Linked DNA regions of Homo sapiens. The protein of the gene in region 1 purifies or fractionates together with the protein of each later gene. This does not show direct contact. Each region holds a gene or a part of one and is shown on either strand. Other genes may lie near its edges.

What was found. The genes of interacting proteins can lie anywhere in the genome.
Region 2: the proteins of WFDC11 (region 1) and ZNG1A purify together in Homo sapiens (affinity purification with mass spectrometry; one large-scale study listed by BioGRID and IntAct). This does not show direct contact.

The regions. Positions count from the first base shown.
Region 1 is NC_000020.11:45,668,098-45,671,850, reverse strand, and holds the start of WFDC11 (protein WFDC11 precursor), read left to right. Parts: upstream 1-1,611; 5' UTR 1,612-1,673; intron 1,674-3,753.
Region 2 is NC_000009.12:147,941-151,593, reverse strand, and holds part of ZNG1A (zinc-regulated GTPase metalloprotein activator 1A), read left to right. Parts: intron 1-166; exon of another isoform or gene 167-289; intron 290-868; coding exon of another isoform or gene 869-887; exon of another isoform or gene 888-3,653. UniProt on the Homo sapiens protein: Zinc chaperone that directly transfers zinc cofactor to target metalloproteins, thereby activating them.

The sequences.
Region 1 (3,753 bases):
TTATCATGAAGTCTTTGCCTGGGCCAATGTCCAGAATGGTATTTTCTAGATTTTCTTCTAGGGTCTTTATAGCTTTAGATTTTACATTTAAGTCTTTAATCCATCTTGTATTGATTTTTGTATGTGGTAAAAAGTGGGGGTCCAGTTTCATTCTTCTGCATATGGTTAGCCAGTTATGCCAGTAGCATTTATTGAATAGGAAGTCCTTTTCCCATTGATTGTTTTTGTCAGCTTCATTGAAGATCAGACAGTTGTAGGTGTGTAGCTTTATTTCTGGGTTCTCTATTCTGTTTCATTTGTTAATGATTCTCATTTTGTACCAGTACCATGCTGTTTTGGTTACTGTAGGCTTGTAGTATAGTTTGAAGTCTGGAAGTATAATGCCTCCAGCTTTGGTCTTTTTGCTTAGAATTGTTTTGGCTATCCAGGCCCTTTTTGCTTCCAAATGCATTTTCAAATGGCTTTTTCTGATTCTGTGAAAAATGTTGGTAGTTTGTATATAGGAATAACATTGAATCCGTAAATTGTTTTGGGCAGTATGACTATTTTAACAATATTGACCCTTCCTATCCATGAGCATAGAATGTTTTTCTGTTTGTTTGTGTTGTCTCTGATACAGTGTTTTATAATTCTCATTGTAAAGCTCTTTCACCTCCCTGTTTAGCTGTATTCCTAGGTATTTTATTCTTATTGTGGCTATTGTGAGTGGGATTGCATTCTTGATTTGACTCTCAGCTTGGACATATTTCTATGCATTTCATACGATTGAAATGCTGCTAGAAATGCTGATTTTTGTACATTGATTTTGTATCTTGAACCTTTGCTGAAGTGGTTTATCAGATCTAGAAGCTTTGGGCAGAGACTACAGGGTTTTCTAGGCTTATATTGTCTGTGAATATTGTCTGTCAAACATAGTTTGACTTCCTCTCTTCCTATTTAGATGACTTTTATTTCTTTCTCATGCATGATTGCTCTGGCTAGGACTTCAATACTATATTGAGTAGGAGTGGCAAGAGTGGGCATCCTTGTCTTGTTCCGCTTCTCAAGAGGAACGCTTCCAGCTTTTGTCAATTCATTATGATGTTGGCTGTGGGATTGTCAGAGTTGACTGTTACTATTTTGTGGTATGTACCTTTGATGTCTGGTTTGTTGAGGGTTTTTAACATGAAAAGATGTTAAATTTTATCAAAAGCCTCTTCTGCATCTATTAAGATGATCTTTTTTTAAAGTTTGGTTTATGTGATGAATCACATGTATTGATTTGCATATGTTGAATCAATCTTGCTTCCCAGGGATAAAGCCTACTTGATTGTGGTGAATTCATTTTTTTGCGGGGCAGGGGGGAGGGGGGGTGGGTATTGCAGGGAGCTCCCAACAGGAAACAATGTGGTGGATTAGCTTTTTGATATACTGCTGGATTTGGTTTGCTAGTATTTTGTTTAGGATTTTTGCATCTATGTTCATCAGTGATATTGGTCTGAAGTTTTCTTTTTCTGTTGTCTCTCTGCCAGGTTTTGATGTCAGAATGATGCTGACTTCATAGAATGAATTAGGGAGGAGTCCCTCCTCCTCAAGTTTTTGGAATAATTTCAGTAGGATTGGCACCAGCTCTTCTTTATATGTCTGGTAGAATTTGGCTGTGAATCCATCTGGTCCAGGGCCTTTTCTGGTTGGTAAGTTTTTTTTTAATTACTGATTAAATTTTGGTACTTGTTATTGGTCTGTTCAATTTCATCCTGGTTTAATCTTGGGAGTTTGTATGATTCCAAGAGGTTATCAATTTTGTGTAGGTTTTCTAGTTTGTGTGCATAGTGGTGTTTGTAATAGTCTCTGATTTTTGTTTGTATTTTTATGGGGTCAGTGGTAATATCCCCTTTGTTATTTTTGATTGTGTTTATCTGGATTTTCTCTTTCTTTAGTAGTCTAACTAGTGGTCTACCAGTCTTATTTATTCTACAAAGAACCAACTTTTGGTTTCATGGATCTTTTGTATGGTTTCCCTTATCTCCATTTTGTTCAGTTCAGCTCTAATTTTGGTTATTTCTTTTCTTCTACTAGCTTTGGGGTTGGTTTGCTCTTGTTTTTCAAGTTCCTCTAGGTGTGATGTTAGGTTAATTGGAGATATTTCTAACTTTTTGATGTGGGCATTTAGTGCTATAAACTTTCCTCTCAACACTGGTTTAATTGTGTCCCAGAGATTTTGGTATGTTGTATCTTTGTTCTTATTAGTTTCAAAAAACTTCTTGATTTCTGTCTTAATTTTGTTGTTTACCAAAAAGTCATTCAGGAACAGGAGCATGTACTAACAAGCACATGTAAGTGTGTGGTTTTGAGAGCTCTTGGTATTGATGTCTATCAATAAACTATTTTTGGATTAAGATATGTACACTGTTTTTATACATAATGCTGTCACACACTTAGTAGATCACAGTATAGTGTAAACATATCTTTTATATGCACTGAGAAACCAAAATATTTGTTTGACTCACTTTATTAGGGTGGCCTGGAACTGAATCTGTAATATCTATGAGGTATGCCTGTGCTATAATTTTTCCATGTGATTTAATGGAGTTTTCCAGAAGTGAAATGAGTTACCCAAGGTCATGGAGTTAGCAAATGATAAAGATGGTTTTTTAATTTTAATTTTAATTTTTTAGTATCTGCCTCTGTAAAGATGGGTTTTAAGTTTACATCGGATGAGTGTAAGGCCTGTGATTGTGACACTAGACAACTGTGAATAGTCAATAGCCTGCTGGCTCCTCCGACCTACCATCTGAATCCTCTGAATGTCTATATCAGGGTCAAGATGAAGGAAATGGTCTGACATTTTCAGACCATTTCTTTGTTGGTGCAAGTATAGCCTAAACATTATGAAGAGAGAATTGGTAATATTTATGCACAGATTGAATTATCTGTATTTCTACTTTTATTGGCTTTCCCAAGGAATAAATAAATAAATACTCAAGGATTTAGTTATCATTATGTAACTAATAGTGAATTTCTACAATAGGGAAAAACTGAAACCACCAAGCTTGTCAACAACTGGTGATTAATTGGCAGAGTAATCTACCAATCTATGAAATTTTTGAAAATATTTAGGAGTACAGGAAAATATTTATTGTAAATGTTAAACTTAAAAATAGTCACAGGATTATCCACTATATAAAAATATATATGTACATAAGAAAAAGTCTACTAGAATATATGCACAAATGTTAGCATAGGTTGACAAGATTAACAATTATTTTTAAATTTAATTGTCATTTTCATATTTTTACAAAATTTATGCACTAAGCATGAGTTGCTCTTTTATTAGTACAAGAGCAAAAAATGACATCTTGAAAAGAAATCTTTTTCTTTTTTTTTTCCTACGGAGAGAAGTAAATGATATAAATTGATGAGGGGTCCCAGGAATAGGACAAGGCCAAGAGTATATTGTAAAGTGGGAAGAGGCAAGGAAATAGAACTAGAGAAGAAAATGTTAGGACAATCTACAGGCTTTGCTTCTCTCCCACTTTCCCACTTTCTCATCCCAACCAAACAACTCTGGGAATATTCCTAGACCCAGTCAAGACTTACTCAGAGCCTCTCACAGTCAGCTCAGCTCCTGAAATTTCCCTTCCCATTATGCCCCTCTGCTAGCACTGTAAGGGTATCTAGAGAGAGTGCCTTGGTGATGGGAATAAGCCCAAGATGTATCGTGGCTCTGAGGCCCAGGAAAAGCTGTGGGCTTCACCATCTGGCATACCTGGC
Region 2 (3,653 bases), on another chromosome or scaffold:
GACTTTCATTTTCTCTAGGTTCTGTTCCTAAAACATCTGTGAAGTGTATTTCTGTAGATTAAATTCTGTTTTCCATTGAATGTTATCTTAATTTCAGAAAATTTCTGTGCAGGGTTATTTTATTAAGCTCATTTTTTTTTTTTTTTTTTTTTTTTTGGTGAGAAAGGCTCAGCAGCTAATAGACTCAGCAACAGGCAGCCAGGAGCTCTGAGGCTCACAGCTGGCAGTCTAGTTCCACTCAGTCTCTACTGGAGAAATTCTTTCTTTGGAAGTACAGCAGAGGCCTTAGGTGAGTGGCTTGTCTGCTATGGCAGAGATTAGAGGTGCTGCCAGACTGCCATAAGTGTTAGGCAGTAACAGCAGCAGCTGCTTATATGCATGTGAACAGCTGGGGAATTAATTTGGTATGCATTCTCAGGAGCCACTCATCTGCTGGCAGAGGTAGCAGAAGAATGCCCTTAGTGTAAGTCCTCTACAACCATACACCAAATGTGCTCCCTGCATTTCAAATTCCATTGTAGAAAGTCTCTGATAATCTCACTTATACTATGAGCCATTCCTCAGTATCTGTCCTCTTCCTGTTAGTGTTCTACAATTCCTTTCTCCTTAATTTTTCTCCGCTTTACAAAATGTCACACAGACAAGTGCATAATACTTAAACAAGCTTTTAAAAATAATGCTCATAAATAGCTTTGGTTCTGTCATAATATTCGTATTTATAAACATTTTAAGTCAATTCTCTTCTTTTGTTTTCATTTCAGAAATATCCATGTCCTGAATAAAAGTTGTGTCTTGATTAGTTTATTATGTAACAATTTAGTGTGTTTGACATTTCTAACTTTTATTTCTAACATTTGCTTTATTATAGAACAATAAACATGCAGTGATTGATTTTTCTTACTTCAAGTGGATGAGTGAGCAAGTGACTAAAATCTTCTGTGAATTATTCAGTGTATGGTGCTTGCCAGTGCATCTGAGAATCTAGGGACTTTCTGAAATAGTACTTCCTTGCTATGAGGACTGAAGTTGCATTAGAATCCTTTTCAATGAAGATCAGATGTCCTGAGTACAATTCTTACTATTGGGTCCTGAATCTTACATTAAATATTCTCTCAAATTCCTTGAGGCATAGCAACTTGAGCTTACCAGTTTAGAAACTGGAGATTTGGGCTGGGCGCGGTGGCTCACGCCTGTAATCCCAGCACTTTGGGAGGCCAAGGTGGGTGGATCACGAGGTCAGGAGATGGAGACCATCCTGGCTAACACTGTGAAACCCCGTCTCTACTGAAAATACAAAAAATTAGCTGAGCCTGGTGGTGGGCGCCTGTAGTCCCAGCTACTCAGGAGGCTGAGGCAGGAGAATGGCGTGAACCCGGGAGGCGGAGCTTGCAGTGAGCTGAGATCGCACCACTGCACTCCAGCCTGGGTGACAGAGCGAGACTCTGTCTCAAAAAAAAAAAAAAAAAAAAAAACAAAACCGGAGATTTGGTTAACAAAATAGTCAAAGTCACTCTTATAGAAGTTTTGTTTTATTTTTTGTTTAAAATTTTTTTACCATTTTGTAGCTGACAAGTACTGACAATAAACTGCTATAAGCATGTGTAGAAAAAGGCTCACCTTGAGTAGTTAAGAGTAAGGAAAAGGAATAGTGTGTAGCATCGTCTTAGTGGTAAGACTTAAGTTGATTTAGTAGCAAATGGAAGTACTAGTGAACCACATAGATTTCAGAAGTAGGAGTAAAAGGTTAGAAGATGTGTCATTTTAATCTTCTCTAGACTTTTTCTTAATTTTTAGAAATGTAAGTGGACTGAACAGAGGAAAACCAAAACACAGCTGGTCAATAATAAGTTAAATTAATTTGACAAACTGCCTACTATGCATTTCATAGCATTTTAAGGACTATATAAGCAATGGATAAGGCAAAAACTCTGCCTTTAAGGAGATCAGTCATTGGGGGGAAACAGAAGCAAACAAACAAAAAGGCAACATAATAGATATTAATATTAATACAAGAATTTTAAAAGCACAGAGTTCTATAATAATAGGAAAATAGAGGGAATGATTGCTCAACTTTTCTTGAAAAAGAGTCAGGAAAATATTGACCGAGAAGACAGTCATTGACCTGAGTCTTAAAGAATGAATAAGGCTTTTACAGATGGAGTAGGGTAGGGATAACTTTCCAGGTATAAGGAAGATTTTGTATTCCAGGGACCTTTGAATTTTTTAGAATGGCTAGAAAACTTGGTATTATGTAGCACAGAAAAAGTGGTATGACTGAAGAGATAGAGAACTTACCACAAAGGGTCTTGAATGCCATGATACATAGTTTGGATTTTCTTCTGTAGGGAGCAAGGAGTTAGTGAAGGATTTTAAAAGCAACATGCCTCTTGGGAGGTAGATTCAATGTGAGGCTAATCTCCGAGGTATAGGAAATACAGGAAGGAGGAGCAACAGGTCGGGTAGTGGTGGAAGCAGGTTTGGAAAATGTGATTAGTTTTGTAAGCGTTTTTGAGTTTGAAGTGCCACTGGGGAAGGCTTTTGGAAATTTATTTCCAGAGTTCAAGACTGAGCTATCATTGCAGTTTGCTCAGCTATTTACTGAGCTATCTACTGTCAATTTGGATAGTATCTACAGTTTGCATTGTAGATACTGGATACTTGGATTGGCTGGTGCACCCTGTTTGTGAGACTCACTGGAGTTTGAAGAGATGACCACTGGAAAATATCCCTAAGCAGTAGCTGCAATTCCACCCCCACCTTGGAGAGCCAAAACCCTCTTCATTTTCACTCTCCTGTCCTTGGTCTTAGGCTACTTAAAGCAGCCTTTAGACATAGGGAAAAATTGAAAGCCTCTCTTTTAAGAAAAACATTAGGTACTTCTGGAATAGAGAGTTCAAGAAATTAGGAGAAAAATGAACTTTTGAAGCTTTTTCTTTCCCTTTTTTGTTTACTTCATTCTCTTACTCAGTTTTAAAATGCTGGTAATGGTCTTTTTTTTCTTTTTTTTTTTTTCTTGGCGATTTTAATGCTTTGGAAAAGATCTCATGGTTTTATCTCCAAAGGAGGAAATTAATTTGATGCCATGGAAATTAGTTTTCTAGTCGTATGCCTTGAATGAGTGAAGAATTTGTTTTTCATGGTGGTACTAAATTTGGGGAAAGCTATAGAAACTTTCATCTGGAAGCTTACACTTTTCCTCTTTTTTGAAAATTTGGTGAGAGACTTGGATATTTTATTGTTTTCTGTAAAAGAGTGTAATTTGTTGTACAGGTCTAATATTGATCCTTTTTTGGAAGTATGGAAAGAATCTGAGTATAAAGCAGAATTACCTCTGGATGGCATGTATTCTCAAGGACACTGTCACAGTGAAACAGTTTATTTAGAAGCTTGTGTTTCCAAAGTGTTGAATTTGATATTCACAAAATTGGCATGTGTAAACTTTATTAAACTTTAAGCTATTTCCTAAGATGAAGATGACAAACTTGGAGGGAAACTTCATTCATTTGGTTTATTTTTATTTTTATTTTTATTTATTTTTATCTTTTTGAGACAGAATCTCACTCTGGTTTGAGACAGAATCTCACTCTGTCCCCCAAGTTGGAGTGCGGTGGTGCGACCTCGGCTCACTGAAACCTCTGCCTCCTGGGTTCAGG